Regions from separate parts of the Homo sapiens genome. Here region 2 is linked to region 1. A link means that fine-mapping ties the variant in region 1 to the expression of a gene that starts in the linked region. Tissue or cell type: whole blood. Region 1 holds a variant in brackets; the other region holds the start of a gene. All regions are shown on one strand. Distances are between the middles of the regions.

What was found. PIP is the estimated chance that this variant, and not a neighbour inherited with it, causes the effect.
Region 2: it holds the start of ASB2, and the variant in region 1 is fine-mapped to the expression of ASB2 in whole blood (TOPMed, PIP 0.94).

The regions. Positions count from the first base shown.
Region 1 is chr14:93,951,692-93,955,691 of GRCh38, reverse strand. It overlaps ASB2 (ankyrin repeat and SOCS box containing 2), which reads left to right. Exons shown (of 10, transcript NM_001202429.2): 4 at 1,209-1,375; 5 at 2,185-2,340. Among named protein-coding and RNA genes, the nearest start is that of MIR4506, 5.4 kb to the right of the region's middle. RefSeq lists enhancers at 1-706, 817-1,794. The variant A/G (reference allele first, on the strand shown) is at 1,928.
Region 2 is chr14:93,974,912-93,978,911 of GRCh38, reverse strand. It overlaps ASB2 (ankyrin repeat and SOCS box containing 2), which reads left to right and starts at 2,342. Exons shown (of 10, transcript NM_001202429.2): 1 at 2,342-2,478. It overlaps LOC107984663 (a long non-coding RNA gene), which reads left to right. Exons shown (of 4, transcript XR_001750861.2): 4 at 1-1,487. RefSeq lists an enhancer at 3,290-3,861.

The DNA.
Region 1 (4,000 bases):
CAGCTGGAGAGACCCAAGCTGGGCGGCAGGTCCTGAAAGTGTTCTCACGACACTGCACCACGCCCTGCTCGCCAAGGCCACGAGAAAAGCCAGCCCTCCTCCCTTCCACTTCAGCTGGGGTCCCTTTGGAGACACTCCAGGAAAAGGGGGGCACATACCCCCACTGGGCTTTTCCTGATGCTGACAGGGGCTGCTCTGGCTGTTCCTAAGTGGAACTCGTCAAGGTGGCAGTGACGGTGCTGATGGGGACCTCAGGACTTATCTGATCAGTTTCCCATCGTCCTTGCTGGGTCTGTTGCTTCACCGGCATCTGTGCTCTGACACCATTAATAACCACAGAGTCTGAGAGTCAGGAGGAAGTGCTGCTCACGCTGGAGGAAGTGGCTGGGAGAGTGCAGGGGCTGGTGGCAGAGACCGCCCAGAGCCCATCCTAGCCCAACATGGCGTGGGTGTCCTGGGAATGAGGCCTGCCTCCAGCCTCACCTTCTCCATCTGGGAAATGGGACTATTGATGCAGAAGCCTCCCCAAAAGTGGATCTGAGAGGCATAGACATCGTGGTTCTCACGGACTCTCCAAGGATGAGGTAGGGAGCTCAGTGAATGAATGAAGGAAGGAAGGAAGCAATGAATGAACAAAGGGACTTTAACAAGCCAAGCAAGGAACGGCTTCACTTTAGCCCTCAAATCTTTTTGACATTCAGAAGTTTTAAACTGTGAAGGCTTCAAATTTATTAATCCTTCCAGTATATATTTTTTTTCTGCAGCTGGATGTACTGGGAGTAGGAATAAGCGACAGGGCAAGGAGAGGAGTTGGAAGACCCCAGAGATATGCTCAGGGTTAAGAGGGGGCCCCCGAGATGGGCGTGCCTGGTAAATGCTAGAGTGCTATACTCAGGGAAAGCATTTAATTATCACAAGTGCCTCACATGTGGGTGGTTAGCCACCCTCTAGGAGGCTGGCATTGTGTGCCTGAATCCTCTTGGTAGAATTGGTTTTGGTATAACATTCCCGGCAGCCATGGAAAGCCACAGAGATGGAGGGATCCCCCAGTCCTCTTGCAGCCACTGGGCTGCAGGGGGCTGAGTGCTCATCCTGGAACCAGCAGGGACGAGGACCGAGTGACTCCACTGCCAGCACTCCTGAGAGAGAGGCCCCCTGGCCTGGCCTTGGCCTGACCTTGAGGACTGACCCACTCCTTCCTCTCACAGGCCTGCGGACCCCTTGATAAAGGCCATCAAGGATGGCGATGAAGAGGCCTTGAAGACCATGATCAAGGAAGGGAAGAATCTCGCAGAGCCCAACAAGGAGGGCTGGCTGCCGCTGCACGAGGCCGCATACTATGGCCAGGTGGGCTGCCTGAAAGTCCTGCAGCGAGGTGAGGGCTGGGCTCTGACGGTGGCAAGAGGTGGGAAAGGGACTAGGGGAAGGGCTGCCGCTCCTGGGGCTTCATGTTCTTTGCCCACAATCATCTTGGGAGAAGGGCAGGCAAGGCTGTCACTTTCATTTGTCAGTTAGTCATGGAGTTACGAGAGGGGAAATGAGTTGTCCCCACCCCCTGCTGCCACCTCTCCAGGCCTCCAAGGACAGGAGAGCCTAATTCCTAGAAAAGGAATGAGGGAGGGCTGACTTTTAGAAGAACCACTGCCAACTTGTTCCAGAATGTCCCAGGGGCTGATTTGGTGTGAAAAATACTGCAGCTGTGCCTGTGCCCGGCCAAGGCTATCCCCCACCTGCTGTGGGACCGCGGGACAGCCGTGCCTCCTCTCTGAGCCCTGTCTTCCTACTGAGCCAGGTTCAGAAGGGCAACTCCTGCAGGCAGGTGTCACCTCTGCCCTGAAGCAGCACAGACCCCACACGGCCCCCGACACTCCAAGAAACCATGGCATGTAACAGTGGGTTTCCAGCAATGGCTGGTGTGAGTTCGAGG[A/G]AAGGACAGGAGTATTCGAAGAGGGAGGGGCTCCATTAGGGAAGGCTTCTCAGAGGACGTGGCATCTGAGCTTGGACGTGTACGACCAGGAAGCTAAAATGGCCCTGTGAAAGGGCCAGATGAATGCAGTCTGTAGTTGGTAAATTTCAGAGGATGTCATACATTGTTCTTGAAATTGGGAGGCAATCGGGAAAGCCTCTGTGTTGCGGGGCTGAGTATCTTTCTCCTACATGAATTTCCCGGTGGGCCCTCCCTAGCGTACCCAGGGACCATCGACCAGCGCACCCTGCAGGAGGAAACAGCCGTTTACTTGGCAACGTGCAGGGGCCACCTGGACTGTCTCCTGTCACTGCTCCAAGCAGGGGCAGAGCCGGACATCTCCAACAAATCCCGAGAGACACCGCTCTACAAAGGTGAGGTCCCCACCCCGGAGTGAGCTTTCCTGCGGAAGAATCCAGAAGCTGGGTGAGCAACAGGGAATGTTGCTCCCGTTAAGTGCATAACCCCCAACGTGGCCCTGCTCAAATGCACAATTTATGTAACTGAATCATTCATTCCTGCATGTATTTTACCAACATTTTCCAACTGCATCCCATGGGCCAGGATGCTGAGGGACACTGAGGGCTTGGAGCTGAAAAGCTATAGTCCAACCTGTGCACCCTCCCAGCCCTGTAGGCACCCACACACAGAGAGCAGGAAAGGGCTTGGCAGGAGGCATTGTGGGAGCATGGGGGAGGGGCACCCAGAGGAGGGGTGCCTGAGCTGAACCACAGAGGAGGAATCACCTGCTGGCCAAGCAGCGGGAACCGCACAGGCAAAGGCATGAAGGTATGCGAGAGCATGTACCTCTGGGACATTTGTTTAAGAAAAACAAGGCCTCCTGGCTTACTCAGTACATCATCCATGGACATTTGTTGGCTGCCCTAGCAGTACCCAGAGTCAAAGTCTAAATAATCACAATAGCTAGCATTGATTGAGTGTTTAGTATGTGCCAGGCACCGTTCTCTTATGGACCCCTCATGTCCATCTGCACATGAAGTAGGCACTGCTGGTATCCCCTTTCACATATGAGGACCTAAGGCACCAAGACATTAAATGGGTCGCCCAGGATCACACAGCTTGCAAGGGGTACCCCAGTGGTTTAAACTCAGGGAGGTGGATGTCACACTGCCCTCAACTACTACATTCTAAAGCATCCTGTCCATGCCTACATGCTGAAGCAATCAGCTGGGGTCTTACAAATGATCAGGCCTTTGTACTTGGAAAAATTACAGATATCCCTGATTTCCCATGTGTCTATCCAGTGCTTGGAACAGCTTGGGCAGCAGGAACTGAGTAGTAGGTCACTGGATCCGCTGCAGACCCACCATGGAAGTGTCTTCCCTGGAATCCGTGCCTGCCAGGGCGCCATGGCTATCACCTGGAACCTCAGCTGTCCAAAGGGAGTGCCCAGGAAGCTGGGCAGCCCACAGCCAGAGCTTGGCCCTGGTCTTGCAAGCACACCTACTATGTGCCAAGCACTATGCTCATGCCTTACACACAGTCTCACTCCCATAGCATCTGCTCAAGAAGGTTTTATTCTCTCCATTTTACAGATGAGAAAGTCAAGGCTTAGAGAGGTAGAAGGCTTGGCCTATGGTTCTATTTGAAACAGTACACAGGCAGCCCTCCTCCCCCTGCTGCCAGTCTCCCTGACCCATTCCTCACTCCTCCTCCCACTGACACGGACACAGAGAAGCTTCCAGGGCTGGTTAATTTGGAAAAGTGCCCAGGTGACTCCAATACCACCTGCAGCTCCTGGTGAGAACTCTGGGGCCAGAGCCAAGGGCACGTTTGGGGTCTAGAGAGAGATGAGGCTTATAAAGGAGGTTAGAGCAGGTCAAGAAAGACTTGAGGAGCTGTACTCACAACGTGCATTTTACCCTGAACTAAATTAGTAGCCTTTGCTGGAGCAGGGGGAAGTTCAGCAGGATTATGACACCGCTGACTCCTCATCTAGAAAGATTCTTCCAGCCTTGGTAATGTGGAGGACTGAAGCAGGTACCACTGGAAGGGGAAATGATAGGGACATCC
Region 2 (4,000 bases), 23 kb before region 1:
GATCCCATGGGGCATGGTTCCCACTGGCATGGCTTTCAATGTGTGAATTATTCTGCCCCCAAATTGCCAGGTGATCTCAGAGAAGGCACAGAACCTCTTGGGGCCTGAACTAGTAAATGAGGGCTCTGAACACCAGGATAGCCAAGAGTCCCTCCAGTTAGAGGGACCACAATTCCCCTGTAAGACAGAATCTCAGCCAAAAGGAGCTTCTGGTCTGATAAACCCAAGAACTGGGAAATGACTTGGGACTACATTCTTTTGTAAAGAGTGAGGTAAAAAAAAATTTAGTTTGAATCTGTTTTTCTTCTTTTAAATGGAAACAAAGACAAGTGGAAAGTCAGAAAAAAGTTCACGGGTAGCACACGAGAGCTGAGGAGCATGCAGCTGAGACCGCAGTGAATATTTGGTGAGTGTCTGGGTTGATTATTACTACATATCAAACTACCTCAATCCCCAGTGGCACGAAACAATCCTTTTATCATAGCTTGTGGTTTATGGGTCAGGAAGTTGTGGGTGGTTTGTCTCTGCTCCACGTGGCATTAGCTGTGGCAGCTGCAGGTGAAGGATCCACCTCCGAGAGGGTGTCTTCACCCCTCTGCCTGGTGCTAGATGCTCTGGGGGCCCTGGGTGTTGCTTGCTTGGACTTCCTCACAACATGGCAGCTACAAAGCATCTCATGACCTAGCCTTGGAAGTCTCAGGACATCATTTCCACTGCATTCTATTGTTAAGTCCATCACTAGGCCACCCCATATTCAAGGGGAGGGAAGGAATAGACACATCTTGGATGGAGTTTGGGGTGTGTATGTGTGTGTGTGTGTGTGCATGTGTGCATGCCCATGAGGCAGAGGGCAACCTAGGAGGGGCCTGGCCTGGCCACAGCCCACCTTCCAGGTCAGATTGGGAAGGGGCAGGTGGTGGGCAGGAAGTAGAGGAACCTGTGTTTTGCCTCCAGCAAGGAGCCCAGGAAAGCAGCCCGGCCTCGGGGAGCCGTCCCACAGAGACGTCTCTCGGGGAACATCCTACTGGGTAGCAGAGTCTCCAAAAAGTAAAAAGAATCTGACAGCCCCTTCTCTGCCCTTCTCCTACACTCCCTCCATAGCACATGGGTCTGGAAGGGGCTGAACTTGAGCTAACTTTGAGGGCCACCCAGCCACAGTGGCCTGGGAAGACTGACCCAGCTGGGGTGATGAGCAATTTGGCAGGTACCAGGGAAGCTGGGGGACTGCCTGGGGACCACTGGTGTCCTTCCCATCTTTAGCACCAGTCAGACCTCCAGAACCTTGACTCAACCCCGTGGCACCTTGTATACTGAGATGTATTTCCTTGTGGAATATTCGAAGTGCGTGTAAAGGCATCCTGAGGTTTCCTGAGTTTGAATCAGTGAGAAATCATGCTGTGGCCATCATAAATCCACATCCTCCAAGGGGAATGGGCCACTGAAACAAAAATGATTCTCCCCTTAGAGGAACAGACCAAGTCATGTTTCTGGACCCCTAACTCTGAGGCATGAGATGTGAACACACGGGTGGGAGAGTAGGTGCCTGGCCATGTCCTGTCACATCCCGGATGCTCAGTGCATGTGGCTGTGTATGTGTTGTCTTTGACATTTGACCTATTCCAGAAATGGGACGTTCTTCCCTAGACCAGGAGGAAGGGCTCTCTTCTGTTGTATATCTCTGCCCAGGGCTTGCCCGCATGCCTCTGTGTTTGTTTGTTGGCTCATTTGTACCCTGGCCCTTTGTATCCCCAGCCCCACCCCACAGTATCCAGCAGCCAGACACCTGCTATCCCCAAATGCTGCCACAAGCTCAGCACCAAACCTTGATTTCTCCAAAGCCCTTTTACGTCAACTCCTTCATCTCCTCTCTCCCCTTCTTCCCTTCTCTTTCACTCCATCCTCTTCCTTCCTGCTGTCTTGCCTTCCCTCCTTTGTTGCCTTTACTTCTCCTCTTCCCCTTTCTTCCTCCTCCCTTGCTCCTCACTCTTTGTCTCCCAACTATGCGTCTCCTCGTCCTCGTTCCCTGCCTCTGTCTCTGACCCACTGCATCTCTCTCCTGTCTGGCTCTCCCCTGGGTAGTTCCAGAAACATACCCATATATGGCCTCCATGTCAAGGATCACAAATGATGACATCACGTGAGGGCCAAAGCTCCGGGATCCTCTCTGAAGTGAGAGTCTGTATTCGATGCACCCGGAGGAACGGAAGGCAGGATTGCAGCTTCCTCAGTGCAACCTCCAAACAGGAAATCTGAGATGTATAACATCTTATAGTTTGGCTTGTCAACGTTGGTCATGCGGTGGCCCCAAAATAAACTCCCTGCTTCAAAGGACAGCGTTTCAGAACTGCCTGGCAGAGCAGCCAGAAGCTTGGGGCCAGGGCAGAAGGAAAACTCGGGGAGCATGTTCTGAATTAAGACACTTTCAAGAAAATCCTTTGTATTACCCCTGAATTGTACCCTTGTTTCAGAGCCTAACAGGTAATGCATGCTTTCAACTTTCTTATACAGATCTTGCAAAAGATTCTTTGGCTGGTGGGGATTTTCGGCTGCAGTACTTACTGGAAACCGCTTGTAGTCAAACTGTGATGTTGCTTTTCCCTCTCTCTCGTATTTTCTTGAGTTATACAGCACGCTGGTGACTTTCGTTTTGGATGCAATGAACAGAGACTCAGCAATTTGCATGTACTTACCCATTCTTCTGGAGGACTCTGGCTCAGAATATCACTCTGCTGTGCACTTCTAAAAATGGAAATGCAAAAGGACTTATCAATGATGCTATTGTTGGGTCTGTAGGTCTTGGGCGGTATCTGTGTCAGACAAGTGACTTTCAGAAATGCTTTCAGGCCAGGCGCACAGATAGAGGTTTTCATGAGTGGGAGTTAATTTAATGTAGCTGTTGCAGAGTGCCTAGGCATGCACGGTATTGTGGGAGACCATAGCAGCCAAGGTGCCATGTGCTCTGCTTTCAACTGTTTGGGGATTAGGAGAGGAAATGGAGGAATGTTATTTATGTGAGATCCAACAAAGCTGTGGAATGCAGGGATGCAAGAATACCATGCATGTGTGTGCACACGCATATGCATGACACATTTAAGGAGGCCATGGCCTTTGAAAGGATGGGTGGGATGCCTCAGGGTGGAAACAGAGACCTCCAGGTGGAGGAGCAGCTTGGGCAAAGGCAGGGAAGTCAAGGGACCTGGGGTGATGATGGAAAGTGAAATGTGGCTCTGGCAAAGGGTTCTGCATGTGAAAAATGGGGGTGAGGCTAGAAGGGGAGGCCAGAGGGAGAGGCACATCCTTCCAGGCCAAGCAAGAAGTTGGAACACTTTCTGAGAGTTTTTGAGCAGAGGACGGCATGCACATAGCCACATGCATTGAGCATCTGGGATATGAAGGGACACAGCCAGGCACCTACACTCCCACCCGTGTGTTCACATCTCAGGCCCCAGAGGTGGAGGCCCAGAAACATGACTTGGTTTCTGGTGCCTCTAGGTGGAGAATCATTTTCATTTCAGTGGCCCATTCCCCTTGGAGGATGTGAGATTTGGCTTCGGTGGCTCTTCGGGAAGCCAGGGGTATGCACTGGAATGAGGAGGCAAGGAGGCTGGTGACTCCTAGGGAGGGCAGGTAAATGAGGAAGGCCTGAAGCAGGGCAGAAGCTGAGCCCCTGCACAGGACAGGAATGCTCTTCTGAAGATAAGCTTGTTTCGTGAGGCGAGGGCTTGAGGGGGCTCAGAGGGACGCAGGCAGAGCCAGCTGGGGCCAGCACCCCCGCCACAGCCCTGACCTCTGCCTGGGCAGAAGCACCATGAGGCAGACAGTGGCAGATGCTCGAGGCACTTCCAAAACAGTTGGACGGGTCCTGACAGCTGGTGGCAGGCCCATGTGCTGCACAGCGTCCCCAAGAAGCTGGCAGCAGCTCCGCTGGGTGCCATGCTGGTTTGCATCATCTGTTCTTGCACAAACAGGCCGGGTCATGAGTGCCTTGTGGTGGCGGGGG